Linked DNA regions of Homo sapiens: regions 1, 2, 4 and 5 are each linked to region 3. Evidence: fine-mapped expression QTL. A gene starts in region 3. Each other region holds a variant in brackets. All regions are shown on one strand. Distances are from middle to middle.

Region 1 (6,093 bases), 120 kb before region 3:
CGATGTTGTCACCGTATTTCCTATGAGTTCATCAAAGCGAGAAAGGCTGTGGCATTTGCTGAAAATCTAGTTTATAGGGTCCTAATTTGAACCAAGATGTTTTGATCCAAAATGTTGGTGATGTCTGATACACAGTGCTGCCGCCTTTGCACCCCTGAATTAGTGTAAATCACTTTTAGTGACAGTAACACGAGTTGTGCAGTTCCATCATCATGAAACTGCTGATCCTAAAGTAGAAGTGTGATGGGACCCCCGAGGGTGGGCACTTGACCCCCTCCAGCCTTGTCCATCTCTTCTGCAGCCAACACCACCTCCCACCCAGTTACCTGTGCACACCCCACCCTCAGAAACCCCTGTTCCTCCTGATCAGACCCTGCCACAACCCATCAGCTCACGTGCTCATTTTGGGAGAACAGTAGGCCTTTACTAGGCCCAGTCTTGGTTTTATTCAAGGCTGCTTTTGTAGGTTTAGCCTAAATAAAACGGGTATAATTGGTGGCCCTACTGAAGGTGTGTGAGAAGTCTAGTTATTTCATTAGTTGGTGCATGGGGAAGAGACCACAGACAGGTAATTCTGTACATTGACTTAGGTCGGTATTTGAGATCTTACCTCTCTAACAGTTCAGAGTGGGCTATTTATGTATCTGAGCCTAACTGGGTAAGAGTCAGACATGTTGCTGTTTTTAAATTTTTGCTCTTAAATTATTTTAGTGCCAGAAAAGGGATATAATTAAAAGAAGAAATCTTGGCCAGGTATGGTGGCTCATACCTGTAATCCCAGCACTTTGGGAGACCGAGATGGGAGGATCACTTGAGCCCAGGAGTTCAAAGACCAGCCTGGGCAACATAGCCAGACCCCATCTCTAAAAATGAAAGCAAATTATTTTATATGCAAATTAAAATGTTTTCAATAAAAGAAGGAATCTTTGTAAGTATTGCAGCTATCATATGTTTTGATTAATGGGAAATTTGTTAGAGGATTGGGGTAGGTGTGTGTTTTTAAGCCTGAACTTGGTAGAACTGACTCTTCTTGCTCTAGAGAATCCAAGGGTGTGGTCAGCACTACCTGGGTTAAAATGAGGGAAGCCTCCCTACACACACTTTTCCAAGTTGGTTTTTTACAGAATTCAGCCAGACAAGACTCAGTTGAGAGCTTTTCTTTTTCCCCTAAGCTTTCAAGGCTCTCCCTTTTGGTTTCTAATTACAAGAATAACAAAAAATACTATCATTAATTTTTTGTTTTGATTTTAAAGCTTATGTTTTTCTTCCAGCTGGATGTTAGTGAGACACAGGCCTTTTTCCTTTTTTCATGTGTGATGCTATTCCTCACGCCTGAGCTCTCACCTCTGACCATAGGCGGCCTGCAGCCAGCGCCCACTCCTCTCTGTCCTTTCTATTTCTGTGCGAATTGGGCTTCCCTAGGAAGCCTCCCTGACCACAGCACTCAACACAGAGATGGGGGCGGGAGGTACCTTCTACTTTTTGTTTTAACCTCAAGTGAAGTGTAATATATAATACATACCTCCAGATAAGACATCTGCCCTATAAGTGACCAGCTCCATGAATGTTTGTAGGGTGCACATGCCCATGTAGCCAGCCCCAGACCAAGAAATGGAATATCCTCAGCTCCCCAGCACCCTGCTGTGCACCCTGCCAGTACCTGGAGCCAGTGGAGGTTTGTGGGGTTTGCACCGAGAAGCATAGTCCTAGTGCAGTGAGAAGAGGTGTGTGCATCTAGCTGCAAGGAGAGGACAAAGGGAGGGGTGCAGCTGAGCCACCCAGGAGGACTTTGCTGTCCAGCGCCTCAGTGTGGCCACTGGAGGACACACAGGAGAGGGAGCCGCAGGCCTCGGTGCCTGGGCAGTTTGTTACCCTGCCAGCTGATCTTCTCTTCAGCAGGAACATGTCGACCTCGGTAATGGAAGCAAGGGGAAGACTTGGAATAGACAGTATTCCATTTTGTAGCATATTTTCATAACTCTGCTAATTGGTTATTTGGGGGTATTGCCTGTACAGAATTATTACTTAGCCATGAATATAAACTTGTCCTCTTTCGTTATCTACTATAAGTGTTCTAATTATGTGCTGCTGTGATCTTTGTTTTGAATTCCTATTTCCTTCCATTTTTAGGTCCCAATATTGAAGCCCATGGATCTTATGGTAGAAGCGAGTCCACGGCGAATTTTTGCAAATGCTCACACATATCATATAAATTCCATTTCAGTAAATAGTGATCATGAAACATATCTTTCTGCAGATGACCTGAGAATTAATTTATGGCACTTAGAAATCACAGATAGAAGCTTTAGTATCCTTCCTCAGAGGGACACTGGCGTCTTCCCGAGGGTGCTCTTTAGATAGTAATTTCTCTCGTCCCTTTATACACCTGTATCTCGGAGTCTAGTCTTGTAAATACCATCACTGCACAGCAGCCTGTGATGTAAGTTCTCTGTGATTTGAAATGTTTGTCCCTAAAAATACAAATTTCTTTCTACCTTTGGGAAAAAGTTATCTGTATAATGGGAATTACCTGAAGTCCACTGCCTGCCTGGTTTAATCAGAGGCAGTTTTAAATAGGCTACATTTGAAAAACCAACATTATGTGTTCTTTTTTTTTTTCTAAATTTGCTAATGAATAATAGAAAATACTGGCTTAGGTTAGAGCAGTGTTTAATCACCCATCTGAGCAGCAGCTTCCAGTTAGAACCTGTGTTCTTCTGTGGCTGTGCACAGTCTGGGTGGCCCCAGCCCTCCTCACATGGGCCCCTTTCCAGCCAGCAGCCGGGAGCATGGGGCTTGCTTCGTCTGCAGCCTCTCCAGGGTCCCTGCCGTCCTCCCTCTGCTGTCCAGTGGCTTGAGCTGGGGTTCCATGTCGTATGTTGGTTTTCTTAGTTGTTTCAGCTTGAAGGGTGAAACTGGGACTGCTAGTCTGAATTGGCCCACAGCTGAATTCTGCCCTTTCTTATTTTTTTCAGTTGAAGGATTTCTGTATAGGATTTCTGTTGGATCTGTTCTA[G/A]CTACACAGAATAAGCTCTTCATGTCAGGAAGAGCAGCATCTTTTGGAATTTGGCGGCATTCTTGTGTTGTAGTTTTGTGTGGGAGTGTGGGATTTTGCACAGATGGTACTAGCTTGGTTTTCCTATTTATATGATTAAGTATGTACTATCTTGCTATTAAGGGCTTTCTGTATAACATTAATAATAGCAGCAAGATGAAAGCGGTGTTCGCTTGTCTGTGTCTCCCCCTGGGCCGGGGCGTTGCTGTAGTCTGAGTGTGCTCATCCCAATCCCCTTACCAGGCGCTCCTTTGGAATTCGGGATGTGTAACCAGCCTTCTTAATAGCTAATCCCTTAAACCTCACTGCGTGGATTATTTGGCGTCCTATTTCGCGTGACTGAATGTAGACTAATTAACAACCAGCTGAGCTGAGCACTGTGCCTTAACCATGCACTCCCAGACATCGTGGACATCAAGCCTGCTAACATGGAGGAGCTGACCGAAGTCATCACTGCAGCCGAGTTCCACCCGCACCAGTGCAACGTGTTCGTCTACAGCAGTAGCAAAGGGACCATCCGCCTGTGTGACATGCGCTCCTCGGCCCTGTGCGACAGACACTCCAAGTGTAAGTGCGTCTGTTGTTGAGATGGAGTCTGGCTCTGTCACCCAGGCTGCGGTGCAGTGACACAGTCTCGGCTCACGGCAAGCTCCGCCTCCCGGGTTCCAGCAAGTCTTCTGCCTCGGCCTCCCGAGTAGCTGGGACCACAGGCAGGTGCCACCATGCCCAGCTAGTTTTTGTATTTTTAGTACAGACAGGGTTTCACCATGTTGACCAGACTGGTCTGACCTCAGGTGATCCCCCTACCTCGGCCTCCCAAAGTGCTGGGATTACAGGTGTGAGTCACCGCACCTGGTCACGCCTGGCGTCTTTTAAAGCATCTCATTTAGAGCCACTTGTTCTTCAGACACTCCAAAGACTTAGAGAGTTCTTCCTGTTCCCCAAGTGCCTTTGCACAACTGGGGAGCCCTCCTTTGCTGGGGCCGTCCGAGTGTGGCTGTGTCAGAGGCTGCTGCTAATAAGTGGAACTCGAGGTCATGCTTCCCACAGGCTTATGGCTGTAGGGTGAGTGTGCTTTTGGCACCACCGAGAAGCGGGGTCACTTCTGCCCAGAGCCTGGGTGTCTCCTCAGAGGCTGCCAGCACTGAGTCCCGCCAAGAGCCACCCGTTGCCTCTGCCTCTGTGCGTGAGACCTGGGCTGAGGCCGCCAGCACACAGGAGGCCATTCCCAGCTGTTGGAATGAGCTCCTGTTCATGTTGAGCTTGGCTGGATTGGAAGCCACTTCCCTTAGCTGAAAGTCTAGCATTTTAATCCAGTGAGCTTTCAAGCTCCTTTTAGGTGAGGGAGGTTCTGGTTTTGTTTTTATTTTTAGCCATAAAGAATGGGCTTGACTTTATAGAGCACTGTAGTCAGCGTGTCCCAGTGTCCTGAAACATTGCTGACCCTTCCTCCAGTGCCAGCAGGTAGACACACGTCCAGTGACTTCCTCTGATGGGGAAGCCGCCAGTCAATCCCACCAGACTGAGCCGCTGCTCATGTGCAGCGGCGCCCCCAGTGCCTCGGTGGAATGTGCCCATGGACCGTGTGCAGCAGCCTTTTCGCCTGTTCTCTTTCCTGAGGTTGAGTGTGTTTTTAAGAATTCGTATTTCTACTAGAATTCCTGCGATGAGGATGAGTGTTTCGTAGCATTTGGCCTGTATCTTAAGCATAAAATTCTTGAGTAAATAATTTCAGATTCCAGTTCTATTTGTCATCAGAGTGATTTATTTGAGTAAATGCTTGGCGTCGGCACAGCTGGCTTCAAGTTAATTTCAGATGCTAAGCCGACAAACACAGGCTCCTGCATCAAGAAAAAAGAGAAAAAACCTAAAGCAGCTTCAGGTCAAGGAAGCACAAGCCAGGTGCAGTGGTGCTCACCTGTGGTCCCAGCTACCCTGGAGGTTGAGGCGGGAGGATCTTTCTGAAAATAGGAATCCAGTTTTGTCACAGTAGAGCTTGTGTATATTCAGTATTGGAGACAAACCTTGGCTGGCTGGCTTTGACCGGCGGGACCGTCTTGGTGGTTAAAATCAGGACCACAGCGTTGCCAGTCAAGGTGGTCACTCCTGCAGACCCACAAACTGTCGACCCTCCAAAAAGCAGGCAGTTTCTTAGAGGCACAGACCGCTGTGTCTGCATGACCATATAATGCTGTTTGTGTCTTCCTGTGATGTGTATGCGATAGAATTTCACGTGCTCGGGCCTGGTGCCATGAGGACGCGGAGACACTCCTACAGGAATGCGGTGGTGCTGAACCTGGGCACACATCAGGATGCCCCGAGGAGCTCCCACAGATGGCAGTGCCCAGGACCTTGCCTAGAGATTCTCATTCAGGGTCCGGGTGAGACTTGGGCGTCTACGCTTCTCATGCCCATCCCTTGTCCATAGCTGGTGCTAGAATGTCTTATCCGAAGCTCTTGCCCACGGAAGTCACAGAAGATCAGAAAACCTAGAGAATCAGAAAGATCAGAAGACCTAGTGTTGAGGCCAAGCCCTTCCAGAGTCTCTCTGAAGGGGCCACTTCCTACTTGAACTTGAAAATGATTTGTTCTCTGATTTTTAAACAGAAGCTGAAAACATTTTATTTTGTTTTTCAGTTTTTGAAGAGCCTGAAGATCCCAGCAGTAGGTCCTTCTTCTCAGAAATAATTTCATCCATATCCGATGTAAAATTCAGTCATAGTGGGCGGTACATGATGACCAGAGACTACCTGTCGGTGAAGGTGTGGGACCTCAACATGGAGAGCAGGCCGGTGGAGACCCACCAGGTCCACGAGTACCTGCGCAGCAAGCTCTGCTCTCTCTATGAGAACGACTGCATCTTTGACAAGTTTGAGTGTTGCTGGAACGGTTCGGATAGGTAAGGCCTGCGTGGAGATGAGCTGTCGCCCCAAGCTTGCTGGTTTCCGAGAGTGCAAGGTCAGTGAGGGAGGCGAGCTGTCCTCCAGCGTCAGAGGAGGACGCTCATAGGGTGTTGTTTTCCAGACCTTTTGATTGAT
Region 2 (6,093 bases), 210 kb before region 3:
GGCTGAGGTCAAGGTGTGGGCCGGGCAGAGTTCTCCTGTGCTGGCCTCAGGGTGCTGGCAGAGTCCACTGCCGTGTGGCTGCAAGACTGGGGTCACTGCTTGCTTGCTGGCTGTCAGCCAGGCCCACACCCAGGTCAGCGTGTCTCCTCTATCTTCAGAGTCACCCAGCCCAGCCCCAGAGGAATCCTCCCGGGCCAGATCCCTCCCATTTTGAACCCCAGCTGCCCAGAATTTCAAGGCCCCATTAAGGACTCACCTGACCAGCTCAGGGCCCAGCACATGCCCCCATTGAAGGTTCACTGAGCAAGGGCCCTCATTACACCTGCAGAATCCCTCCCCAGCAGCCTCTGGACTGTGGTGATTGGATGACAGGGGGAAGGTGTGTGCCCTGCAAGGACGGGCACCTGGGGGCCAGTTTAAAAGTCTGCCTTCCCAGGGCTATGGGGAAGACGAGCGGAGGCCCATTCAGGGCTGACACAGCATTTCTGGGACAGCCAGCACCTCCGGACGCTGGCCTTGGCAGAGCCCATGCCCTGGACCAGGCCCATCCATGGCCCGCCTGTCCCCAGGGAGTGGCTCCTCCCTCCAGGACCCCGAGGCCTGTCCTGTCAGTGCCCATCCCTGCACAGAGACCAAAGCACCCTTCATGCTGAAAGCCCATTCCCACAGCCACGCCTCCCAGAAGCACAGAAGCTGCAGCGGCAGGAGCCAGCGGTGCCCCTGGTGCTCTGGGGCAGAAGCCAACAGCGAACAGCACAGGTGGGTGGAATCGGTGGTGGGGTAGAGCCCAGGAGGGTGAGGCTGGACCCCCTGGAAATGCAGGTGCGGGCATCTCCACCGGGGAAATCAAGAGCTGTGACCGGCTGTGCCCACCCTGGCGGAGCGTGTGACTGGCAGTGTCTTTGGGCACATCTTTGGGTGTCTGTAACCCCAGAGGGACACTCTGAATGTCACCGACCCCCAACATTCCTGCCCTGGAAAGTCAGGAGCGGGCGAGGTGTCGCCCTCACAGGCTGGAGCAGGAGGGCCCATGGTCACAGCTGTGCCCAGGTCGGGGTGGTGCCTCCTGAGGAGGGAAAGGAGCAAAGGCTTCCCGGGAGTGTGAGGAACAGCCTCCAGAACCCCAGGGACTTTCCAGGCAGGGAGCAGGTGCGAAGGCCCTGGGGCCCTACAACGTGCAGGCTACAGAAGGCTGGGCAGCCAGCCTGGGGGAGGAGGGAGCAGAGAGGGGAGGGAAATCAATCAGAGGAGCGGGGTGGGCGGGGGAGGCTGGGCAGGGCCCTGTGGGCCTTCAAAGCTTTGGCTTTAGGCCGAGTCTGAGATGGGAGCCTCAGGAGGGTGTTGAGCCCCGGAGTGACCTGAACTCTGCCCCGCGGGCAGCTGCGTGGAGATGGCCTGGGTGGGGGCCCATGCTGCGTATTGTTCAGTTAATGACCCTTAAACCACACTCACAGCCCCAATACTGGTGGGGTAGGCAGAGCACAGCTATGGTGGCCCCAGAGTAAGCTCCATGGCAGAAGAATCCAGAAGGAAAAGCTCAGATTCCCAGAGGCAAGCAGGCGGAAGACACTCCAGAGACGCCTCAGAACTTAGAGAGGCCAGTGGAGATTGGCCAGTAGAGGTCTGTGAGCCAGAAACCCGTCAGGGCAGGCGTGAGCTCAGATCAATGCCTCGGGCAGCCACAGGGAGAGAGAAGCCAGCAGAACACGTGGAGATGGGCAGCAGGAGTGCAGCGGCCCCAGGTGCGGCCAGGCCCAGCCAGGGAGACAGTGGATCTCACCTGGCCTTGGGCGCCGGGCACAGCCCTGGTGTTTTGTTTGGTGGTGCCGATGCGCGTTTCCTGTGGCACTGGAACTAACCGCCACGTACTTTGGTGGCTCACAGCAGCACAGGCATCTTTCTTCACACCCCAGGGGTCCGTACGGAGTGAAACAGGGCTCTCTGGGCTAAAGTCCAGGTGCTGGCAGGGCTGGTTCCTTCTAGAGGATCCAGGGGAGAATCCCTTCTCTCGCCCCTTCCAGCTTCTAGAAGGAAGCTGCCTCCGTCCTCAGAGCCAGCAGCATCCAGCCCAGCCCTCACATTGCCCTCCCTGGCTCTGAGCCCCTCGGCTTCTCCACGCTCCTCCCCGTCGGGTAAGGTCAGCTGATGAGCATATTGAGCCCCTCACGGCACCCCCCATGGCCCCCCATAGCCTAGCATATCTATAGGTCCTGTAGTGGGACAGCAGCATCCTTGGGGACATGATTCTGCCAACTCCAGTGGTACTCTCCAGTCTGGTGTGGAGGAAGAGATGGAGGAGAAGCCTGGGTGCACGCCTGGGGCAGGATATGGACCCAGCATGGCCAGAAGAAGCAAGTCAAACTGAGGCCGTGGACCTGCAGGGCACATGAGTCGGGGGTGCTGAGGGGTGAAGCCATGGCCTTTTCTGAGAAGTCCATGCAGATGCGTAAACCGGAGACTCATCCGGGGCGGCCCTGGGCACCCCCATCCCGAACAGGTCTCTTAGTATAGTTCATTGTCAGCGTGCAGTGGTTCAGAGCCTGCCTCTGACTGAGGCGGCTGCCCAGGGCCACAGGGCAAGGGGCGGGGGGGCGGGGACAGGACCCTGAGTCCTCATGAGGCCATGCTGAGTTGGTTGGCAGCACCCAGGGGAGTGACTGTGGAGGTCCCATCCCCATCTGGTCCTCAGGCAGGGGCAGCACAGCCTTCAGCCACAGCCCACTCCAAAGCCAGCACCACGATCTCTAAAGCCTGGGACAGGAGGCCAGCCTCAGCCGCCACCGTGCCACCCGAGAACAGGAGCGAGGACCAACGTTCCCGGCTCTCATTCACACCCAGACAAAGGATGCTGGTGTTGACGGATGGAGCCACGGAGTGGGAGGAAGCTGTCTCAACAGATTTGGCCCTGCTGCAAACCCATCAGGAGGCTCTAAGCCGGTTTCAGGATGAGACAATACTGCGCCCCATTTCCTCCCCAAGGGCCTGGAGTGACTTCAGAGAATCAAATGCATGGTGAGTGGGTGGAGTAGGGGGAACAGGGACCTTCCTGATAGCTGTTCAAGTCCAAGGAATGCTGAGCAGGAGAGATGTGGGGCAAATTTTTAGAGAGAATGTTTCTGAAGCGTGTGGTCATGATGCCGCAACCCCTGAGTGACGGCGGGAGGCGTGATGGGTCTTAGATCCATACAGGTTCGACGGCCCCTCGGCAGTGCGGCCCCTCAGCAGTGGGGCCAAAGCGCCATTGCCGGCAGCCGGTCGGGAGGAGGGTGAAAGAGAAATCCTGGCTGCACACAGAAGGCACCAACTGTTTGCTCATCGCAGAGCAGGGCAGTGGTGCCCAGGAGGGCGGGGCATCGGATACTGAAACACGAGCAGGTTTCCGGCATCGAGACTGGGGCTGGAGACTTCAGGAAACCTCATTTTCTTCCCCAAACATCCACCCTTTTCTTTAAAGTAGGCCAAAGGCCTCCGTTTCACGCTGTGTGAGCCAGGCGTGTCAAGCCACAGC[G/A]GTCGAGGCGGGTGTTTCTCAGGGCAGGCTTTAAAGGTGCTCGGGCCCTTCGGCCGGCGCCCTCTGCAGGCAGGGCAAAGGGTGGGGCCATGGGGTCCCTGCAAAGATCAGGCTAAGGCGACTCCACCGCACTGGAAGGGAAACTGAAGCCCTCCCAGGGTCACCTGCTGGACGGCAGCAGAGAACGTGGGAGACCCACATGGCCAGGAGGAGGGTGGCAACACCAAAAACGTAGTTTTGAGGGAGGACATGAAGCAGCAGTCAGCTGTGCAGAGTTTCTTCCTCAGAGTCTTGGGGATGAATCAGGACCGGCCAGTGGGGACAGCTGAGTATGTCTCAGGTCATCCACAGGGATGCTGTCCAGGCTGGTCCAGAATTGGCTCAGCCTCTCATCTCGCTAAAAATCCTCCAGTGGGGAGGGCACCAGGGGCTTGGGATGGAATCTTCCCATCAGAACAGCTTTCAGCCTAGGTGGTTGACGGAGTCTGGGGAGAGGTATGCAGGTAGCGATGCCCACTCAGCCTCACAAGTCACAGCAACGAGGCACTGCAATGAGTCACTGCAACGAGTCACTGCAAACTCCATCCCTTTTTTAGGACTTCAGCTCCTCATGAAATGGCTCAAGAACCAGAATTTTAGAGACATTTTTTTCCCAGTGTGACTGTCTTGGAAAGCAGTTTCATGAACAAGCCTTTTTCTGGGCCCAGGACCCTCCCAGTGACCTGGTGGACAGAACCAGTTCTCTTTGGCCACCAGGCTGTCTCCTAAAGTAACTAGAGCCTGGGGACCTTGATACAGTCGCCTCGTTCCACAGCAGTCTGATAGCCAGTCACACCTGCACGACTCCCATGGAGCTGACAAATTGCTTTGGTCTGGGGATCCCCAGCCACTGAATACTGGCCATCTTTACCTGCATAGGAACCTGGTCCCTAGACACCCAGTCACCTTTGCTGGGCTTGACTTGCAGCCTCCACACCACAGCTACGTCCTGACTGCTGGGAGCAGGAGCCTGTTTTGTTCTCTTCACCAGCCATTTGTGTCTCCTGTTCCGTGGGATGCCTTTCCATATTCTCTGCTTTACTATTGATGTCTTTTTATCATGGTGTCAGAACGCTTTAATATAAGAGATATTCACTTTTTGTTTAAAATTTTTGTTTAAATGTTGCAAAATGTACCAGAAGCAAATAATCGAAGGGGGAAATTTTGCACCTCATAAGACAAAGTCTGATTCCCTTTATGGCTTTTAGATATCCCGTCTTATGGGAGAAGCTCTCTCCCATCCCAAGGGTATAGAATGCTATCTTTAGGTATCTTTTAATATTTTCACACTTTACATCCAACTCTTCATTCTCGATGGGGTTTATTTTTATGCATGGTGCGATACAGGATTCTGGATCTTTCCTTCATCGCCCATCATGCCAGCACCTTCTGTTATACAAGCCCCCAGTTCCCGCTGAGCTGCCTGAAATTCCCCTGGAACTTGGACCCACTCCAGGCAGCTCTTCTTGCATGTTCCTGGGGCCAAAACCATGCCGTCAGGATTCCATCGGCTCTGTTGGGATCTAAGTATCTGATAAGGTGTGATTCCTGGCTCACTGTTCTTTAGAAAACATTCTCAACTATTTTCAGACACTATTCCTCGATGTGAATTTAAATACTTCTTTTTATTTCAAAAAAGAAAATGGAAAACATCTCTTTAGAAATTCTATTTAGGTGGCATCCCGTTCACACATCCATAGGGGAAGGACTGAGGTTTTCATGACACTACCTCGTTCACCTGTGACCTCCCTGCATTTCTGCAGGTGTTGCTCTGTGTACACGCACCATCTGCAAATGCTTCTCCTCCACACAGACAAGCCTGCCGGTCTCAGCCTCCTTTCTTGAAGCTGCACCTGCTCAACTTTCCGCTCAGGTCTCACATCAAGGATTTTGCTCTCCTGCACATTCACGGAGCCTTCCTTTGGGGGCGCCATTGCTTACGGCCCCTGGGATGGCTCACTTTATGTGTCAATTCGCCAAGGCCACAGTACCCAGACATTTGGCCAAAGATTGTTCTAGCTGTTTCTGTGAAAGTACTTTCTAGGTGAGATTAACACTTAGATCAGTAGAGTTGGAGTAAAGCAGGTTACCGTTTGGGACGTGGTGGATCTCAGCCAATCAGCTGAAGGCCTTCATAGAAAAAAGGCTGAGGTGCCTTGGAGAAGAGGGAGCTCTGCCAGAGGGTGGCCCTCGGCCTCGAGCTGCAACACCAGCCCCTCACTGGATCTCCAGCCTGCAAATCACCCTGCAGATTTCAGACCAGCAGCCTCCACAATCCTATGGCCAATCCTTAAAATAAGACTAATGAAATCCTTAAAATAAATGAAGAAAGAGAAAGGAACAGTGTCAGAGGAGGAGTAAATGAAGGTTAAATAAAAGCATTTGTTTTCATTATTTTTAATTGATCTAAAAGATAGCTGTTCAAGGCCGGGTGCAGTGGCTCACACCTGTAATCCCAGCACTTTGGGAGGCTGAGGCAGGTGGATCACCTGAGATCAGGAGTTCAAGACCAGCCTGACCAACATGGTGAAATGCTGTCTCTACTA
Region 3 (6,093 bases):
GTGCCTGGTGAGGCAGCCACGTGAGACATAGAGACCCACTGGAGGTCGTGGTTTTCCCAGACCCTGTGACACAAGTGAGGCCTGCTGTTTAAGCCTCTTTTCCTCAGAACACGTCCTGGGGGTGCTGGCTCCATCCCAGGTGCTGGGGCTCGGTTTCTGGGATCTGGAAGAATTAGGGTGGAGCTGGCAATGTGGCTGGGAGGCTCAAAGCTCAGCTTCTTGAGGACTAGCAAGGATGGTTTTCTTATTCATCTATTCCTGTGTTTTCCAAATTCTCTACAATGAGCACATTTCACTTTTACAACTAGAAAAATGGATGCTATTTAAAGAGCAGGCTGCTCCCTAAGCTGGAACGCCGGGTGTCAGCCCGGCCCAGCACCCACCTGCTCTCCGCCTCAGCCAGCGTGGGGATTTGGAAGGGACAGTGTCTCCCTCTGGGCTCCGGGAGAGAACGGACCGTCTGCAAGGGGCACGTTTACTGCAGGAATCAAAAGCACATACACGCATGTGCATCTGTTTGGAAATGAAAGTAGATGTTTTTTCTGATTCTAAAAATATTGTTTCCAATTCTACAAAAAAAATACATACAATTCAGAAAGATACAAAACAAAATATCAAGTCACCTGAGATCCTATCACCTGGAGCTATGGCCACTTTAGAGCTTGGTATCTACGCTTTCAGGCTTTGTTTTTCTTGAGTGCAACACACACAGGCACGCGTTTTTAAAAACAAATAATGTGATCATACTATACACACTTTTTTAAACAGAAATGTGAGCATACGATACCAGCTTTTTTATGGCTGACTTTAAAAAACTTAAACAATAGGTTGTTTACGTCTTTCTGTTAAGCTTGGACTGGGGACATTTTTAAATGGCCCCATTGTATTTGGACGTATGTGCGTTTCCCATCGCTTGTTAAATCACTCCTCTGTTGGACGTCTAGGATGTTTCCAATTATTCCCTGTTATATTATGGACAACACTGCCGTAAGCATCCCTGAGTGAGTTATATTTAAAGGCTTACAACAGCGCCTGGCACGGGGTAGGTGCTATAAAGTATTTGGACTAAAGTCAAATCTGTGCACACACCATCCTTGTGTTGTTTCCCCAGGATCAATTCCAGCAGGAGGACAGCTGGGCTGAGGGGGCACTGCCCTCGTCAGGAAGGTTGTCCCCGTGGCCTGCCTCCGACTGAGGAGGAGCCACCCTCGGGGTCGGGCGTGGACCCCGAGCCGCCGGCATGGGAACCCTCTTTGCTTCAGGGCAACACGGGAGGGGTCTGGATCTCCGACCCACCGTTCCGGGTCTGAATCCAGCTCCGGGACCTGACAGGGATGTGATTGTGGGGCAGCCGCATGGCCTCTTGGCGCTCCAGCCTCCTCCCCTGTGACATAGAGGCAGCGATGGTTGGTAACCAGGGACAGCGGGCGGCTCCGTCACACGAGTCAGGACATGTGACCCTTGGAGGGTTGTTGCATCACCCTGGACGTTTGGCCAGACGTGTGGCCATGGTTTTAATCAGGACAATTTTTTGCTTGCTCTAACTTATGAGGGTGGCCAGATCTAGACAGACAGCAGAAGTAACCCGAAGTCCTGGCCTGCCCTGTGCCATCCTCTGACATGTTATCATCGGCGTTCACTCTGTGGGCTCCTCTCGGGGTGATGCCTGCCGGTCTCAGCTTTGGGGTGAAGTGACATTTGGCCTTGACTAGAAGAGGCAGGTTGTGGGGGGCAGGCAGGGTGCAGGCGAGGGAACTGAGGCAGAGCGGGCTGGGAGCAGGGGGGATGTAGGGTCCTCCCAGGCTGACCCCCAGAACCTGGGCGTGCAGGCCTGCTCTGGGGTCCAGGCTCCGATGCAGTCTCAGCGCAGGCCCTGGTGGCCGGAGACAGGGCAGGGCAGGAGCTTCAGGCCACCCGCACCGGCAGCCCTCAAGGCTGCCTTGATGGAATCGGACCCAGATGGACTCTAAGCGGCCTCCTGCTTGGAAACCCTGTCAGACCCTGCGTTTTCTACAGAGCGGCTGTCACACGGCTTTTCCGGACGGTGATTATGGACTGCGTGTGGGATTGGCGGGCCAGGTGAGCTCTCGTGCTTGCCCTTCACACAGGAATGCTGCTGGTCTCCTGTGTCTGGTTCCCGTCTGCATTTTCAGTCCTCAGTGTTGAGTGTGTGCAAATCCCTTCTATCACCTGACATTTAAAATAGATACCCTCAGAGTGGAAGTTCGTTCCTATTATTGACCCGCTCACTCTGCAATCTTGAAGGGGGTTCTCCAAGCAGGAGGGAAAGCCGGCCAGAACGCGGTCCTGGAGCAGCCAGGAAGCCGAGGGGGCGGTGAGGGCAGGGATGGCCCAGCCGTGGCCTCTGCCGCTCGCTGGTTTTCACGTGAGACTGCCGCCGGGCCAACCCGGAGCCCAGGCCGCCTCTGCATCTGAATAGAGCCAAGCTGCCTTCAGGATCTCACCTGCGTGGCTGTGCCTTCGGCCGCCCGGCCGTGCAGAGCTGCGGGCCCCTTCCCCACCGAGAAGCGTCTGTTCGCGCCCTGCAGGGAGCTGGGCTGGGGGCTCAGAGGATGCCTCTGTGCTTGGCCTTAAGGTGCACAGGGAGAGCTTGGGCGATCCTGGCTCAAGGGCTCTGCTTGGAAACAGCTCGGGGAAATGGTTCCTCCCCCTGGATGTAGTCACAGCGTGGTAAATTCCATCTGAAAAATAAAAGCCGAGCTCTTTGCTGAGTCATAGAAGCTCGGAGCTGATTTGCGCAAAAGCCGGACTGAGTCTTGGACGAGCCGGGAAAGATTCTCACAGTCGAGCAGAGCGATGGGAGAGAGGAGCAGACAGCGAGCTTTGGAATGTGAGTGTTTATTTTCTGACTGCTGCAGAGGCTTTGTTGGTTTCGGTTTGGCTGTCTCTGCACAGGCTCTTTCCACCTGGTGCTCTTCTGTATTTAGTGCGCACACGTATGTGGCTGGAAAGTTGACAGTTTGGGGTCTGTCCTCTGAGGGGTGCAGGGACGATCACAGAGGAAGATGCTTCATTTATCCGTTTTCACGTTCATGCTCATGCACACATTTGGAGGAGGCTTGGGCCTGCGTTCCCAGTAGTAGGTTTCTCCTTTAAAGCATGGGTGTGTGTTCCATCCCATATGTAAAGCGGATGCTTGTTGGCACGGCAGCCGTGGTGGGGTGGGTTGGGGAAGCCAGGCTGAGTCTGTGTATTGCCGGCTGTGGTGAGAATCCCACGGACATAGCACCAGAGAGCTGTCTGCACAGCCCGGGAGGCCTGCGGCGTCCGGGTGCTTCCTGGCTCCGTGGGGTAACCGGCTGGACTTTTTTGCTGCTTGTTTTCCTTTTGAAGAATAGGTCATCTTTATGGCTTGAGGCCTCACCACCTACCTGCGCATTGATTGGATGGTGTCTTCTCTTTAAAACTTAATCAAGAATCACACATCACTCATTGATATAACTTCTTATGCAAGGAACTCCAGGTTTTTGGGAAACAACAGCTTATTAACTTACTAATTCACTCTTTGAGGTTATTGCACCATGCCTCAGTTTCTACAGTTGTTCAAAGAAAATCCACTGCTGATTGGGACTGGCAGGGCTGCGGTGGAAAGGGTGTCACAGGTAACTTGGCAGTACGTTGTTGTACTGATGCTTATTGAGATGTCAGTGAGACTGGCCGGGAAACCATGCAGGCACCCTAGGGATGTAAATACTTGCTGCTGCCGTTGATTTTGTTGTTCACAGTGTGGGAGAACCAGTCACAAAACGGTTTTCTCATTCCAAGCCAAGCCTGGAGTAGTAGACTTGAGAGTCCTCTCAGTGGATCGGGCCTTTGAGCAGGTCCGTGGTAAAACGCCACCTCAGTTCCCGAGAAGAGCAGCAGAAGAGGAAAGTGAGCCGGGCCGAGGAAGGACCCTCAGTTTACATTCACAGCATTACCGGCAAAAGGCTGGCGTTTGGATGAGGTTCCCTAAGAGTCCCACAGAGTAGATCAATATGATCAATATGTGCTTGGAGAAGACAAGACGCCTGGCACATTCACATTCCTTCTCCAAGGCTGAGGGTGGGGGGAGGGCATTGGCATTCCTGCTATTCCCGAGGTTTCCCTGCCTCTCCTGTGAGTTGAGGGCACCCCTGTGAAACCTAAGGGCACGCTGTGGCAGAGAACATGCACGGAGCTCCTGCTTCTCTCCCGACAGCCCTGGGAAGGCCTTACTACTTTAGGTCCTAACTAACAATATCCAAACGACCAGGTGGTGGTCCCACAGCAAGGGAGCTGTCAGTCAGAGCTGTGCCTCTGCCCCCGTATTTTGGATCGAGCTCCTCCAAGAGAAGTAAGTGTCCTATACATGTTCTTGGAAGGTTGATCTTGACTGTGGACTTCCGTGTGGACTGTGGGCTTCCGTGTGTACTGTGGGCTTCCGTGTGGACTCTGGGCTTCCGTGTGGACTGGACTGTGGGCTTCCATGTGGACTGTGGGCTTCCGTGTGGACTGTGGGCTTCCGTGTGGACTCTGGGCTTCCATGTGGACTGGACTGTGGGCTTCCGTGTGGACTCTGGGCTTCCGTGTGGACTGTGGGCTTCCGTGTGGACTGTGGGCTTCCGTGTGGACTGGACTGTGGGCTTCTGTGTGGACTGTGGGCTTACGTGTGGACTGTGGGCTTCCGTGTGGACTGGACTGTGGGCTTCTGTGTGGACTCTGGGCTTCTGTGTGGACTGTGGGCTTCCGTGTGGACTCTGGGTTTCTGTGTGGTCTGGACTGTGAGCTTCCGTGTGGACTGTGGGCTTCTGTGTGGACTGGACTATGGGCTTCCGTGTGGACTGTGGGCTTCCGTGTGGACTGTGGGCTTCCGTGTGGACTGTGGGTTTCTGTGTGGACTGTGGGTTTCTGTGTGGTCTGGACTGTGGGCTTCCGTGTGGACTGGACTGTGGGTTTCTGTGTGGACTGTGGGTTTCTGCGTGGTCTGGACTGTGGGCTTCCATGTGGACTGTGGGCTTCCGTGTGCACTGTGGCTTCCGTGTGGACTGTGGGCTTCTGTAAACTGAATTCCATTCAGGACCAATGCCATATCTTTTTATTTTTCCTTGACTCCTGAGTTTCCAGACAGGCAAGCTAGGATGTGGCTGGATGGTGGTGTTAATTTTCCATTTGGACCCTGAAACGGCCCTCTTTAGTACGGGGATTGAATAAGTTCAGGACACTAGCCACTGAGATGACTCTTTTTGAAAGAGCCTATGTTGGCCTCCTAGGCTTCTTCCATGAATCTCTTGGGCAAGTGTTTCTTATCCATGAACCTCTTGGGCAGGTGTTTCTTATCTCAATATAGCCCTGTTGGTCTGGCACCCCAAGCTGGGCTTTGAGCGATGTGAGGTAGACGTGCTTTGGGAGCCGGAGACTGGAGGTGTCTCCTGTCCTGCACCTTAGCCCCAGGAGCTGCCTGGGCCTGCTTTCTTTGCAGACGTCTTATATTTATCAAACCTGTGCTGCAGGCAAGGGCCATGCTTACTTTCCTTTGGGGTCCCTCTGGAAGGCTCTCAGGAGCTGAGTTCTTGATTGCCTTGGGTTTTTGACCCCAGGACATGACATCAGGAATGTCCTGTGGTTGCCAGTTTCCAAGCAAGCACAGCTGGCAGGGGCATCATGGGAAACCCTCTCCTTGGCACAGAGAATTGGTCTCCAGAAAAACCGGGCCTCAAAGTGAAGCCGGAATTCAAACCTAGGGAAAGTGACTCCGGCCAGCTCAGGATGAAGGATGTGACTGGATCAGGAGGATTTGCAGACCTTACTGGCCTTAGTGCTCGGCCTGCGGCTGAGTTCGAGGGGAGCGCCTTTAGCTGGACTGGTCCAATGTGTTTAATTGGGTAAGGAGGAATCCTACCCAGGCGCCATTCTTCCTGGGCACGGAGCTTATTAAAACTTTCCCCAGCTGCTGCTCTTCCCAGACATCCACCTGCCTGGTGGGTGGTTGACCCAGGACTACTTTGACTTTGAAGGACCCCAGGTCTTCCTGCCTGAGGAGGACTCTGAGCACCCAGCCAGGGGTGGGAGGCCAGGGGAGGGGTCTGGAGGCCTCGGTTTTTCTTCTGAAGG
Region 4 (6,093 bases), 74 kb after region 3:
CAGCATGGGTTCCCCGGAGAGCAGCAGGACCCTGGTCTCCTTAGTATTTTAAGGGCGCCAGTCCCCACACAGATGTGGACGCCACCCCTGCAGGGTCCGGAGGGGCCCTGGCCATGAGTCCCCTTCCAGCTTCCCACAACTGTGTGCCCCTCAAGTCACCTGCCCCGTGTGGCCCCTGGACGCATTTAGAAGGGGAGCTGGTAGACCATTGAGCAAGACAAGCTCAGAGCCCACCTAATTGGGGAGCCGTCCGTGTCACCCTGGAGACAGGAGCTCCCCGAGGAGCAGAGCTGGAGCCAGGGCCTCCCGCTGTGGTGTGGGGACAAGCCAGCCCAGACACCGTCTTCCCTGTCATCCAAATGATGGCACACGGGCAGTAAACCGTGGACTGAAACCGGTGGAGCTGCTCTACCACTTACACAACCTCTTCAACTGGCTTCCGCAGGAGCGGGACAAGCTGTTAAGATTCCGGAAGCAAAGAAAGAAAATGGCAAAACTTCCCAAGGTAAGGAACAGCACACCGGCACGTGCGGAGAGTACGCCGGGTGTGTGCGGAGAGGACCACGCCCGCGTGTGTGGAGAGCGCTGGTGTGTGCGGAGAGGGGTGCGCCGGTGTACGTGGAGGGCGCTGGGTGTGTGTGCCGAGGACCGCGCCCACGTGTGTGGAGAGTATGCCGGGTGCGTGTGGAGAGGACCGCGCCCGCGTGTGTGGAGAGTACGCCGGGTGTGTGCGGAGAGGGGTGCGCCGGTGTATGTGGAGGGCGCTGGGTGTGTGTGCCGAGGACCGCGCCCGCGTGTGTGGAGAGCGCTGGTGTGTGTGGAGAGCGTGCTGGCGTGTGCTTAGTAGGAATCAGTCTTTGGAGATGAAAAAACAATTTTATTATTTCTAAAAATTGTTACTGTGAAATGACCAAAATAGGACCCAAAGAAAATATTCTGTTTATCATTTTTAATAAACTTGTTTCTTTCAAATTTCCAAGAGAAGATAGGAATTGGTAACAACCATACCAGCAACACTAGCAATGAAGAGGTGCCGGCTCTGGTGTCCTCACTGCCTGTGTAGGGTCCGAGTCCCCACGACCTGTGGGATGCACGGCTCTGAGGACGGGCGGCTGAGGCTGCTCACACTCACCCATCCTGGCTGTGCCACACACCCCACGCTCGCCTGTCCTGCCGTTCACCGTCCTCGGCCACACTTGCAGGCTGTGGCAGCCTCATCCACAGGCCCCACAGGGCAGACCCACGTCCCCAGGAAATGTGAACACCTGTCATCATTTCTCTACAGTAGAATCCTTTGTGATAAACCTATGATTTTTATTAAGGGAGGCTTTGGAGCAGCTGCCAAAGGACCTAACTCATCTCCTGCTTTATGTTGAGTGTGTGTGTGTGTGTGTGTATGTGTATGTGTGTGTGAGTGCGTGTATGTGTGTACATGTGTGTGTATGCATCTGTGTGTGTGTGCATGTGTATGTGAGTATGAGTGTGTATGTACATGTGTGTATGTGTCTGTGTATGTGTGTGTATGAGTGTGTGTGTGTATGTGTGTACATGTGAGTGTATATGCATCTGTGTGTGTATGTGTGTGTGTGTATGTGTGTACATGTGAGTGTATATGCATCTGTGTATGTGTGTGAGTGTGTATGTGTATGTGTGTGTGTTTGTATGTGTGTACATGTGAGTGTATATGCGTCTGTACGTGTGTGAGTATGTGAGTGTATGAGTATGTGAGTGTGTATGTGTGAGTGTGTGTGTGTGTTTGTGTGTACATGTGAGTGTATATGTGTCTGCATGTGTGTATGTGTGAGTGTGTGTGAGAGTATGTGAGTGTGTATGTGTGAGTGTGAGTGTGTGTGTGGCTTGTAAGCTGTCAGCAGTGTTTTCTCGCTGTTAGACTGTGAGATGCTCCTCGGTCACAAACACTTGCCCTCTGAAAGGTGGAGAGGAGGAGCTGTCCAGGCTCTCCCCGCTCGGGACCCCTCTGGGATTTGGAAGTGTCCAGCAGACGCCTTGGCCCTGTGAAGGGAGGACACAGGGTGTGGGGAGGCACACAGGACAGGGGCCAGTGGTTGGCGGGGAGTAGGGGAAGTCGGGTGGCCCTGGGGTCCCTGAGGGAGTTTTGCTGGAAGGTTCTGGCAGAAGAACTGGGAGGAGACCTGGAGGCCACTGTGGCCACGGCAGAAGGGACTGAAGAAGATGGCGGGCTTTCCATTTTGTAACACTTCTGAAGGGGACCCAGATGAGTCCCTCTTCGATTCTTGAAGGCAGGGGTGAGGGGGCCCTAAAGATGCAGACGTCGGGGTGAACCTGGAGGGTCCCCAAAGGCAGGGCCTCTCACACCAGCTGGCGGAGGACCCCGTTTTTGTTTGTATTCCAATCAGTCAAGGACTGAAACTTTAAAAAATGGAACAGAAATGCATCACTGGGAATGAGATCACACAGGGAAGGCACCCATCGTCGGTTCTGTTAACCCGGGTACCACCCTCAGGGAACCGCAGGGACGGTGCCCCACGAAGGGCCTCATTCCCCACCACCAAGGGCAGGGCCAGGACCCGCTCACCCACGGGACTCCAGGCCCCTTCCCCACCCGCCCTGCCAGCCTTGCCATAGAGCGCCCCTCACACCCAGGCCACCTCCTCGGCCTGTGCCAGGGACAGAGATGGGAGTGTGTCGCAGGGTGGGGCTGCGGCCCCCACCGTTGGGCAGCGGGAGGAGGCGGCGGGAGGAGGCGGCTGTGCCTGGGTCTGGTTTGAACTGACACGTCGCATTTTGGTCACAAGCCGGTGGTTGTGGAGACCTTCTTTGGATACGACGAAGAGGCTTCCCTGGAATCCGACGGCTCCTCCGTCTCTTACCAAACAGACAGGACGGACCAGACCCCGTGCACCCCGGACGATGACTTGGAGGAGGTAACGAGGGTCTCCTGCCGGGTCCTG[G/C]GCTTGGAGGAGGTAACGAGGGTCTCCTGCCGGGTCCTGGGCTTGGAGGAGGTAACGAGGGTCTCCTGCCGGGTCCTGGGCTTGGCTGGGCATGGGCTGCCGGCTTTTCACGGGGAAGCCCTTCGCGGCCCTCACTGGCACTGACCCGCTGATAGCTGACTCGGGCACGGTGAGAAGCTCCCATGACATGGCTTGGGGTGTGGGCTGAGGCCCGCTCTTGCTCCCATGAAGGCCAAACCATGCCTCCTTCTGCCACTGAGCCTACGCCCCTTCTGCATAGGGGTACGGTGAGCTCTCCCTTCCTAAGGGGCCTCCCCAGGAGGGTCTGAACCACTCATCAGGGAGTTTGGTCTCAGTGCCAAGAGCACATTAGGGTGAGGGGTGTTGAGCAGGAGTTTTCTTTCTGATAACAGCACAGGTGTGTCTGCCCACCAGCCCCTTCTTCCAGAAGGACGGCTACCCTCAGGCGCAGGCAGCCATTTCAGCACCAGGTCGGGGCTTGGTGTTGTGGGACCCAGACCCTGTGGCTGTGGGACAAGGAGTGGGGTCTGCAGTCAATGGCACAGCCAAGGATTGGGCCTCCCGTGGCAGACCCTGGAGGGTGGCCCAATGGCCATAGACCTGTTGAGGGATCTAAGACATCCTCTCACAGCCTCAGGTGCAGGGTTGGGCAGGGGAACTGGGCCAGGCCAAGGCTTCTGGGCTCAGTCACTCCTAGACGTGGCCAACCCTTCCAGCCCCGGGGGTCCACCGGGACCCTTTGAAGGCAGCAGCAGGCTCACCTGTCTTCTCCCTGGGGTGACGGGGGGCACTGCAGCTAGCAGGGTGAGCCTGCAAGAGTGCACCTGGGAGGAGACGTGCTGCCTGGGGTACTTTACCCCCTTCACAAAGCCCAGCTTTCTTCCCAGGACGTGTTTCAGCAGAGCAGAGCGTGTGCAGGCCTGGTTGGTAACAGAGGGTCTGCTGGGTCAGGGCAGCCTGGCTAGCAAGCAGGAGCCCCAGCTGAGCCCCTGGCCATGGCCACCAGCCCAGCAGGCTCACCCTGTCCTCAGCCGTGCAGCCGACTCAGCTCCCACCCCAGGGCTCGGTGCTCCCCTCCCCAGGGAAACCTTTCTCCAAACAGCACTGAGTCCCCAGGCAGCCGCCCCTCCCTGCACACTGGAGCAGGTCCCCTCCCTCATGCTGCTAGAGAGACCCCCCCATACACCATTTGATATCTGGGGAGAAGGGAAGCCCCGGGGCCCCGCCATCGGAGGAGGTGCTGGCTACTGACACTGTGTCTCTGTGCGTGTGTGGCATCCGTGTCTCTCCAGGGCATGGCCAAGGAGGAGACGGAGCTGAGGTTCCGGCAGCTGACCATGGAGTACCAGGCCCTGCAGCGTGCCTACGCTTTGTTGCAGGAGCAGGTTGGAGGGACGCTGGACGCAGAGCGAGAAGTTAAGGTCTACGTGACTTCCACCGCGCGTTCCGGCCCCCCTCGTGCCTTCCCGCTTGACCCCGTGGCCTGGGCTGGGACACCCCCCTCACTAGCCCTCCTGGGCCCGGGCCCCTCCTCTCCTGCCCTTGCCTGCAGTCCTGGTGGTGCCCATGGAAGCCGATCAAAACCAGGGATTGGGGATCCCGGTGCTGGGAGTTGGCCCAGGTGGGAGGGACTGGCCCAGAGCGGTGCCAGGCACAGGTGTGAGTAAGGGTCCTGGGGGAGGCGGGGTGGTAGTGGTGGCAGGGGCCCACAGCGCCCAGGGTGGGCCTCCTTCCAGACCACCTCTTCCACTCTTGGCAGCATGGCGATGGCCCGTGGCAGCATCGAGCTCGGTGTTGAAACTTGTGGAGGTCATTCATCCTCAAAGGCTGAGCTCACACAGGCTGTGCCTGCCCCGGCCCCGGCCCCGGCCCCTCTCCCCCGGCCTCCCCACTGGGCAGCACCCCAGCAGCCGTGTCCCTCCGCCCACTTCCCTGGCTCACCTTAGCGTCGTCCCCCAGGAAAGGCCTCAGTGTGGCTGGCGGGTGCCCTCTGCGGGCCGTGGAGGGCAGTGCAGGCACCAGGCCTCGTGGGGAGAGCGTGGGCCATGGGTCGGGGGTCCTCTTGCCGCCCCACCCTCCCTTACTGAGGCTCGGAGGGGAAGCCGCTGGAGGACCTGCACCTGGTACCCCTCACAGCGAGACGGGCTGCTTTCCGGGGGAGCTGAGGGGTTCTCCAGAGCAGGCAGCTGTGGGGTGTGGGGTTCCCGTTGGCCTCCCCACCCCAAAACCACCCTGCAGGGCCAGAGATGCCAGTGTCTGGCAATTCTGCAACTTAGGGTGGCTGAGCTGGGTGGGGGACGGACCTCTTGGGGCGAGGGGAGAGTGTCCACAGAGCATCCCCAGCGTGGTCCACGCTAGTGCCCCAGGGAGCCGCCAGCCTCATCCTCTGTCCACCCAGACCGCCCTGGTGACGTGGCTGGTTTCCCTCCTGCCTTCCTGGCACCTCATTGGGGACGTCTGTTGTGAAAACTAAGAGAGAGCTCCACCCCTCTGTGCCCTCCTCCTGTCCTGAGTCGGGGTGGGGGGGGCTGGCCTTGGAGGGGGCGTCCCCTCCTCAGGCTCGGAGAGATTTGTCTCCGTAACTGGGGACTTTAAATATCGCCTCTTTCACTTTGACTTAATTTTTGCATGACCCTTGGAGAAAGGAAAAAGTCAAGGCCTCGGTTCAGAGCATCATAAAGCACAGCAGCCCCGAGACATCCCAGAGCCTCATGGGCCCAGCCTTTCTCCCTCACAGCGGGGGCGGGGCAACAGCCGCATCCTCCTGGCCAAGCTCGCCAGGAGCTGGAGGAGCTGGAGAAAGCATCCTGTCTTCCCTTTTTCCTGTCGGGTGCCAGAGAAACATTTGCTCGGGGGCCACATGGAAGCAAAGAACTCAGAAGCTTTGCTTAGAGAGTAAAAATGTCCAAACTGCATGTAAAAAAAAGTTTAATGTCATTTAGAATCAGAGGAAAATCTGATGCCGAGAAGTGCTGCATGGTTATTTTAAAAACTAGAAGATACAGAAAAGATTAATGAAGAAAATAGACTAGCCGGCATCCCACAGTCTGATTCTGTATTATAATTGGAAATGTCACTCCTCACTGTGGAAATCGAGGAAGCCTCAGGATAAGGAAGGGGGCAGGAGAGGACAGGCGTC
Region 5 (6,093 bases), 100 kb before region 3:
TCGATTCTGCAACTCCCATTGTCTTAGGCTCTGTAGCTCTCCATTTTCTTCTTATCCTTGGGACGTGTCTTGGACGTTTCTAACAGGCTGTGTTCCTGGACCTGAAACTCAGCTGGAGACTGGGTCCCTTGCAGATTTGCAGGGACCGTCCATCGCTGGTGTGTAGATGCAAAAACAAAACACTGGCACCACCCAGTCAGAACTGGCAGGGGCTGCCTGCACTGGGCACCAACCCCGCAGATGGCCAGGCCCAGACCACGTGACTGCCTGCTGGGCTCCACCCCCAACCGCAGCCCAGCCAAGGCAGAGAGGTGGCTGCACTTCCGCCGATCAGAGGTCCAGATAGAGCTCCGTCTGCTTGCCTTGGAGTTGTTAGAAAATTATCTTTGGGGCTAGGCATGGTGGCTCACGCCTGTAATCCCAGCACTTTGGGAAGCTGAGGTGGGCGGATCACGAGGTCAGGAGTTCAAGACCAGCCTGGCCATCATAGTGAAACCCCGTCTCTACTAAAAATACAAAAAATTTAGCCAGATGTGGTGGCGGACGCTTGTAATCCCGGCTACTTGGGAGGCTGAGGCAGGACAATCACTTGAACCCAGGAGGCGGAGGTTGCAGTGAGCCGAGATTGTGTCGCTGTACTCCAGCCTAGGCGACAGAGTGAGACTCCATCTCAAAAAAAGGTTGGGATGTCTTTTTAAGTGTGTCTGTTCCAGGAGGATGGGAAACACTAATTTATGATTCCAAGAACTTTCAGGGGAAATTTGTTATCCAAACCTAAATATCTGAACACAGTGTAACCCTGGTTCTTACTAGAAGTGTTTTTTCTTAAAGAAGCTGTGAACTGGTCATACGTACAGCGTTCACAAGTCCCCAGAGGAGGTGACAAAGTCTTGCCCTTGCCTCTGGCCCCCTGGATCATTTTGGATACTTGTTTCTTGGGGGGTTACTTCCAGTTTTTATACAAACACAAATAAGATTCACTCCTGTTTCCCGTTTCTACACATCGGGTAGCATCCTGTGCATGCCGTGGGGCGCCTGGCTGTCCTCACTGCGCGCGTCTGGGCGGGCTGTCCACACCGTCCGTGGAGCCTCACTGGCTGCTGCACGGTGGCATTGCCACACGTCGGACGCGGCTTCTGACGCCACAGGGCTGTGCGCTGAGGCTCTGCCTTTCTAACAAGCCCCCAGGCAGCGCGCTGACACCCCAGTCCAGGGACCACACTTTTTTTTTCTTTTTTAGTAAAAAGGTATCTTCTATTTATTTTCCTTCTTAGCGTTGTACTTTGAATAATTTTGAACAGGTTTTGGAAATCCTGCAGCCTTCACCCAGCCCCCTAACAATGGTGTGTCCTGCAGCCTCATGGGGACTCACACCGTGCAGGGCTAGTGGCCTCACCTGCACCTGCCTTGGCACCTGCCTGGCTGTCTCACGAGTGTCGGTTTTTCCTGTCCAGGGCCCTCCCAAAGCGCCCACGTTGTATTTCGTTGTCTCCCTGCCTTCCAGTCTCTGCTGCAGTCTTTCAGGACCCGAGCACTTGGGAAGTGTGGGCAGGCATTTTGTAGACTCCCCCTCAATTTTGGTTTGCCTGATATTTTCTCGTGATTAAACTGCAATTATGCATTCTGGCAAGAACACGGAAGAGATCTGGCCTCCTCTGCATCAAATCAGGATGTAGGTGGTGTCTACCAGGTCTCTTCACTGTAGAGTTACTGTTTTCTTTGGTGTAATGAGTATCTTGCGGGGACACAATGAGAATATCCTCTCAAGAACCCACTAACTTTAGTTTCCGTCGACGAATCAGCAGTTATTGGTATTTGCCTAATGGTGACTTTGTGTTTTTTTTTTGTTTTGTTTTTGAGACAAATAACCGTCACCACCACCGGGACCCAGGGCTGGCCGTGCACACAGCTGTTGGAGGATCATTGCTTCCAGGCCCTTTTGTTGAGTGGCACTTGGAAAGACACACTCCCCCATGCACAGCTCCGGCTCAAACCGCGACTCACTGCTAACCCAAACCCAGCAAGCCCACGGCTTCGTGCTAGCCTTCCTTGTGACTGTCCAGCAGTGGGAAATCAGGCTGTCATTACGTGTAACATCACACAGTGTTAATATGCCTGTGGTTTCAGGATTGCCAACCCATGGAAAGCAAATTCACTAGCAAGAGTTTACTATGTTTTTTTTTTTTTTTTTTTGTCACTTTAACCTTGCAGTATCCACCCCGAATGGTGTTCTCTGGTCCTTTAGCTCACCAGCCCACCCCTTCAGTATGGCTTTATTATTTATAACAGTGAGGTTCCCTTACTGTAGGTATTCCATTTGGGATTCCCCCCCAAAACAGTTATTCATTGAATTTGGCAGCATCTGAAGCATTAATGTGGTTCTAAGTCTGTTACACAAAAAGCTGCACTCCTTCCACCCTCTTCCGTTTTCCATCTCCACCTCTTTCCACCCCGGGGTAACCAATCTCATTTAATTCTGCCTTATTCACCCTAATTTTTTTGCACAAATGAGCAGTTATGTGTTTTTCTTAGCTTTTTTCACATAAAGTATACTATATATATATTTAAATAATCCTGTATTTTGTCCTCCCATTTGCAGTTTGGACGGGGCTCAGCAGGTTCAGTTCATCTGTGCTCCAGACTGTCAGCGAGGGC[A/C]TCTCTCCTGGCACTGGAGGATCCACAGAGGGGGCCACATGGCTGGCAGGGGTGCTAGCTGCTGGATCCTATCTGACCAGGCCTCTCTACTGAGCAATGTGGCTTCTTCCCAGCACGGAGGCTGGGCGCCAAGAGCATGCACCCGCAGAGACAGGAAGTGGCGGCTGCCGGTTTCTTAAGGCTGGGTGGGCCCAGAAAGTGGTGCTGCACCACTGGCATCACTCCCTCCTTATCCTGTTGGCCAGTCCAGAGCTGAAGGGGCACAGACCCCCATCACTCATTAAGGGCTGTCAAAAAAACTAGGGGGCTTTTATTTTTTTGAGACAGAGTCTCGCTCTGTCGCCCAGGCTGGAGTGCAGTGGCACGATTTTGGCTCACTGCAACCTCCACCTCCCGGGTTCAAGCAATTCTGCCTCAGCCTCCCAAGTAGCTGGGACTACAGGTACGCCACCACACCCAGCTAATTTTCTTGTATTTTAGTAGAGACGGGGTTTCACCATGTTGGCCAGGCTGATCGCGAACTCCTGAGCCCAGGCAATCCACCCGCCCCAGCCTCCCAAAGTGCTGGGATTACAGACGTGAGCCACAGCGCCTGGCCGGGGGCTGTCTTCAAACTGCTACAGGTTTCCTGTTTCAAGGAGCTGCTTCCAAATGTTCTTTCCTTTCTGCTAGGGAGACATCTATTTTTGCACTGTGTTTTACTTCACATACCCTGGAATCCCTTCTCATCGCGAGCTCTTCCCCTTGGTGCATGAGTGGCAAAGCACCGGCCCTGCAGGGCAGCACTGTCGTTCTCTCGAGTCTCTATGCGTGGGCACCTCGGTTGCTTCATATATTTTAATACAATCATGTTATAATAAATACTGCGTATTTAGTTATATCCTTGTGCATGTGCATGTAGAAGTTTCTAGGTCTGTCTCCAGAGTGAATTCCTAGAAGTGGTTTGTGTGTCCAAAGCATAGATGCATGGCTGGAGTTTTTTGAGGTGTTGCCGACTCCTCTCTCTTGCAGCCATGTGCATTCCTTCTAAGCAACGTGTCGGCGTCACGTTCCACACCCTAAGCAGATGTGTATGGGCAAATGTCTGCATCAGAGTAAATATCAGGTAAATAGTGGCCAAGTGGCCAATGTTTTTATATCAGAATCACTTAATGTTAATTTTATAAACTTAATGATTAAAATGAGTGTTATGGGCAGTTATTTGTATTAACCACTGTAGAAAAGAAGGGTTATTTACAGAAGCTATTCAGAAGGCACACTGCCATTATCCTACCTCAAAGATAAAAACATTCAGATACGCACACACATCAAACTTGTTTCATTTTTAATAAAATGTCTAATGTTACAATCTAACGAAAAACACCTCCAGAAAACTTGATTCTTGGTCTCCCATCTGTCTAAAGCACTCCAGTCCCAGAGTTGTTTTTTCTGAAACAGGGTCTTGCTCTTGCTCAGGCCGTGTGCACTATCCTGGCTCACTGCAGCCTTGAACTCCTGGGCTCAAGGGATCCTCCTGCCTCAGTCTACCAAGTAGCTGGGGCTACAGGTGTGTGCCACCACACGAGGCTAATTTTTGTATTTTGTGTAGAGACAGGGTCTTGCTATGCTCCCCCAGGCTGGTCTCGAACTTCTGGACTTGTGATCCTCCTACCTCAGCCTCCCAAAGTGTTGAGATTACAGGTGTGGAGCCATCACACTGGCCCAGTCCCAGAGCTTAGTACCTCCAACTGGTTGTTTTTTTTTTTTTTTTTGAGATGGAGTCTCGTTCTCCCTCCCAGGCTGGAGTGCAGTGGCATGATCTCCACTCACTGCAACCTCTGCCTTCTGGGTTCCAGCGGTTCTCCTGCCTCAGCCTCCCAAGTAGCTGGGATTACAGGCACGTGCCACTGCGCCCAGCTAATTTTTGCATTTTTATTAGAGACGGGGTTTCATCATGTTGGCCAGGCCAATCTTCTGACTTCAGGTGATCCACCCACCTCAACCTCCCAAAGTGCTGGGATTACAGGCGTGAGCCACTGTGCCCGGCCATACAGGTGGTTTCACTCAGAGTTCAGCCATTGTCATCTGTGAGGGGGACACGTGGTTGGCTTTGTTGTGTGCTAACTTTGATGGTGACCAGGGGGTTCACTGAGCTCTGTAAGGTGCTGAAACTCCACTGATGTTTGTGATGAAAGACAAACAGCAAACATATTTGCTCTAAAACAAAAACGGAATTCCCTTGACCATCGTGCTTCGATGATCTCAGACTATTCTGAAGTTAAATTATATAAAGGAATTCTGATGTCATGCCATCCACATTCTCCAAATGTAAGACTGAGAGATGACTGCTTCCAAGGTAGCATCAACAAAGATTTTTACAAATGAAAACGTTAGATTTAACACCCGAATTAAGCGTGGAAAGGTGAAACATCAAGGCGGCAGGCAGCCTTTCTAAAAAGTTTGCTGTAGGAAAGATAATGTCAAAATAGGGACCAGTCCTGGTTTCATTAAGAAGCTATCATGACGTCTGATTTTAAACCATATGTAAATACAGTAATCTGAAGGATTTGGCAAAGATTTATTTTTTTTTCCATTTCCAGTTTTTTAAAGTAGACACAGATTTGCTTAGAATAAAGCTGATTTTAAAAGCACACAAAAGTTGAACACAAAGGAGAGGATTAAATTCACCAATGCAGAGTGATAAAGAGGAAAAGATACTGAGTAGGTGCCTTCAGCAGAAAACTGATCATCCAGGGTGATCACCTAATAATCGGAGACTTAATTCCTTATAATGCAAAAGCAAGAAGAGTTTAGTGTACGAACTGTACAGCTGAGTTTGTAGCTCTATCTTGGTTTCTGTTGATTATGAACAATTAGCATAGTTATATATAATCTTTCTTTAGTAGACAACCTGCATCCATTTAAATTAAATAATACTTTCTACAATAGTGTGATATATAAGGCCACAATATTTATTTTGGACAAACCCCTTAAAGTAGCGATTTTATTATCAATGTTATTCATTCTTTTGAAATATAAAGTACTTCAGCTGAATTAAGGTTGCAGATAATTTTTAAAATACAACACACATCATGACTAGTATATTAAAATTATTTATATTCAGATATTTATATCTAATATCAAATGAAAATTTACTACCAAATTTTCACAGTAGACATTAATCAGTCTGACATGCTTATTGATCCCATAGGTGTAATTATAGATCAACATGATTTTAGTGTCTATTCTTTTATTTTACTAAATTAGGAACGCAGCATTTACAGAACAAATAAACACAAGTGACGTGGCCACCCCAGGATCTAACAGCTCTTCAGTGAGCTATGTTGCAAGCTCAGAAGTAATCCACTAACGAACCAAGTCAGACTCCAGTTCTTCATCAAAAGGTGCTGGTGGAGGTTGTCAGACGCCTTCCAATATAGATCCTTCACAGAAAAATTA

What was found.
Region 1: its variant is fine-mapped to the expression of JAKMIP3 in whole blood (TOPMed, PIP above 0.99).
Region 2: its variant is fine-mapped to the expression of JAKMIP3 in spinal cord (GTEx, PIP 0.95).
Region 4: its variant is fine-mapped to the expression of JAKMIP3 in whole blood (TOPMed, PIP above 0.99). The same link has a PIP of 0.9 or more in gastroesophageal junction, prefrontal cortex, skeletal muscle and sun-exposed skin.
Region 5: its variant is fine-mapped to the expression of JAKMIP3 in blood mononuclear cells (TOPMed, PIP 0.91).

The regions. Positions count from the first base shown.
Region 1 is chr10:131,941,838-131,947,930 of GRCh38, forward strand. PPP2R2D (protein phosphatase 2 regulatory subunit Bdelta) reads left to right here. Exons shown (of 9, transcript NM_018461.5): 6 at 2,131-2,308; 7 at 3,458-3,622; 8 at 5,693-5,954. Among named protein-coding and RNA genes, the nearest start is that of BNIP3, 37 kb to the right of the region's middle. RefSeq lists an enhancer at 3,118-3,947. The variant G/A (reference allele first, on the strand shown) is at 3,017.
Region 2 is chr10:131,855,509-131,861,601 of GRCh38, forward strand. LOC105378565 (a long non-coding RNA gene) reads right to left here. Exons shown (of 2, transcript XR_946487.4): 2 at 5,154-5,859. Among named protein-coding and RNA genes, the nearest start is that of PPP2R2D, 42 kb to the right of the region's middle. The variant G/A (reference allele first, on the strand shown) is at 3,509.
Region 3 is chr10:132,063,211-132,069,303 of GRCh38, forward strand. It overlaps JAKMIP3 (Janus kinase and microtubule interacting protein 3), which reads left to right and starts at 2,736. Exons shown (of 24, transcript NM_001323087.2): 1 at 2,736-2,851. RefSeq lists enhancers at 1,513-2,260, 4,535-5,035.
Region 4 is chr10:132,137,674-132,143,766 of GRCh38, forward strand. It overlaps JAKMIP3 (Janus kinase and microtubule interacting protein 3), which reads left to right. Exons shown (of 24, transcript NM_001323087.2): 9 at 446-505; 10 at 2,778-2,906; 11 at 4,247-4,375. Among named protein-coding and RNA genes, the nearest start is that of JAKMIP3-AS1, 46 kb to the right of the region's middle. RefSeq lists enhancers at 102-623, 3,975-4,822, 4,823-5,669. The variant G/C (reference allele first, on the strand shown) is at 2,934.
Region 5 is chr10:131,962,493-131,968,585 of GRCh38, forward strand. It overlaps BNIP3 (BCL2 interacting protein 3), which reads right to left. Exons shown (of 6, transcript NM_004052.4): 6 at 5,192-6,077. The coding sequence ends at 6,032. It also overlaps a transcript of PPP2R2D not described here. Among named protein-coding and RNA genes, the nearest start is that of BNIP3, 16 kb to the right of the region's middle. The variant A/C (reference allele first, on the strand shown) is at 2,656.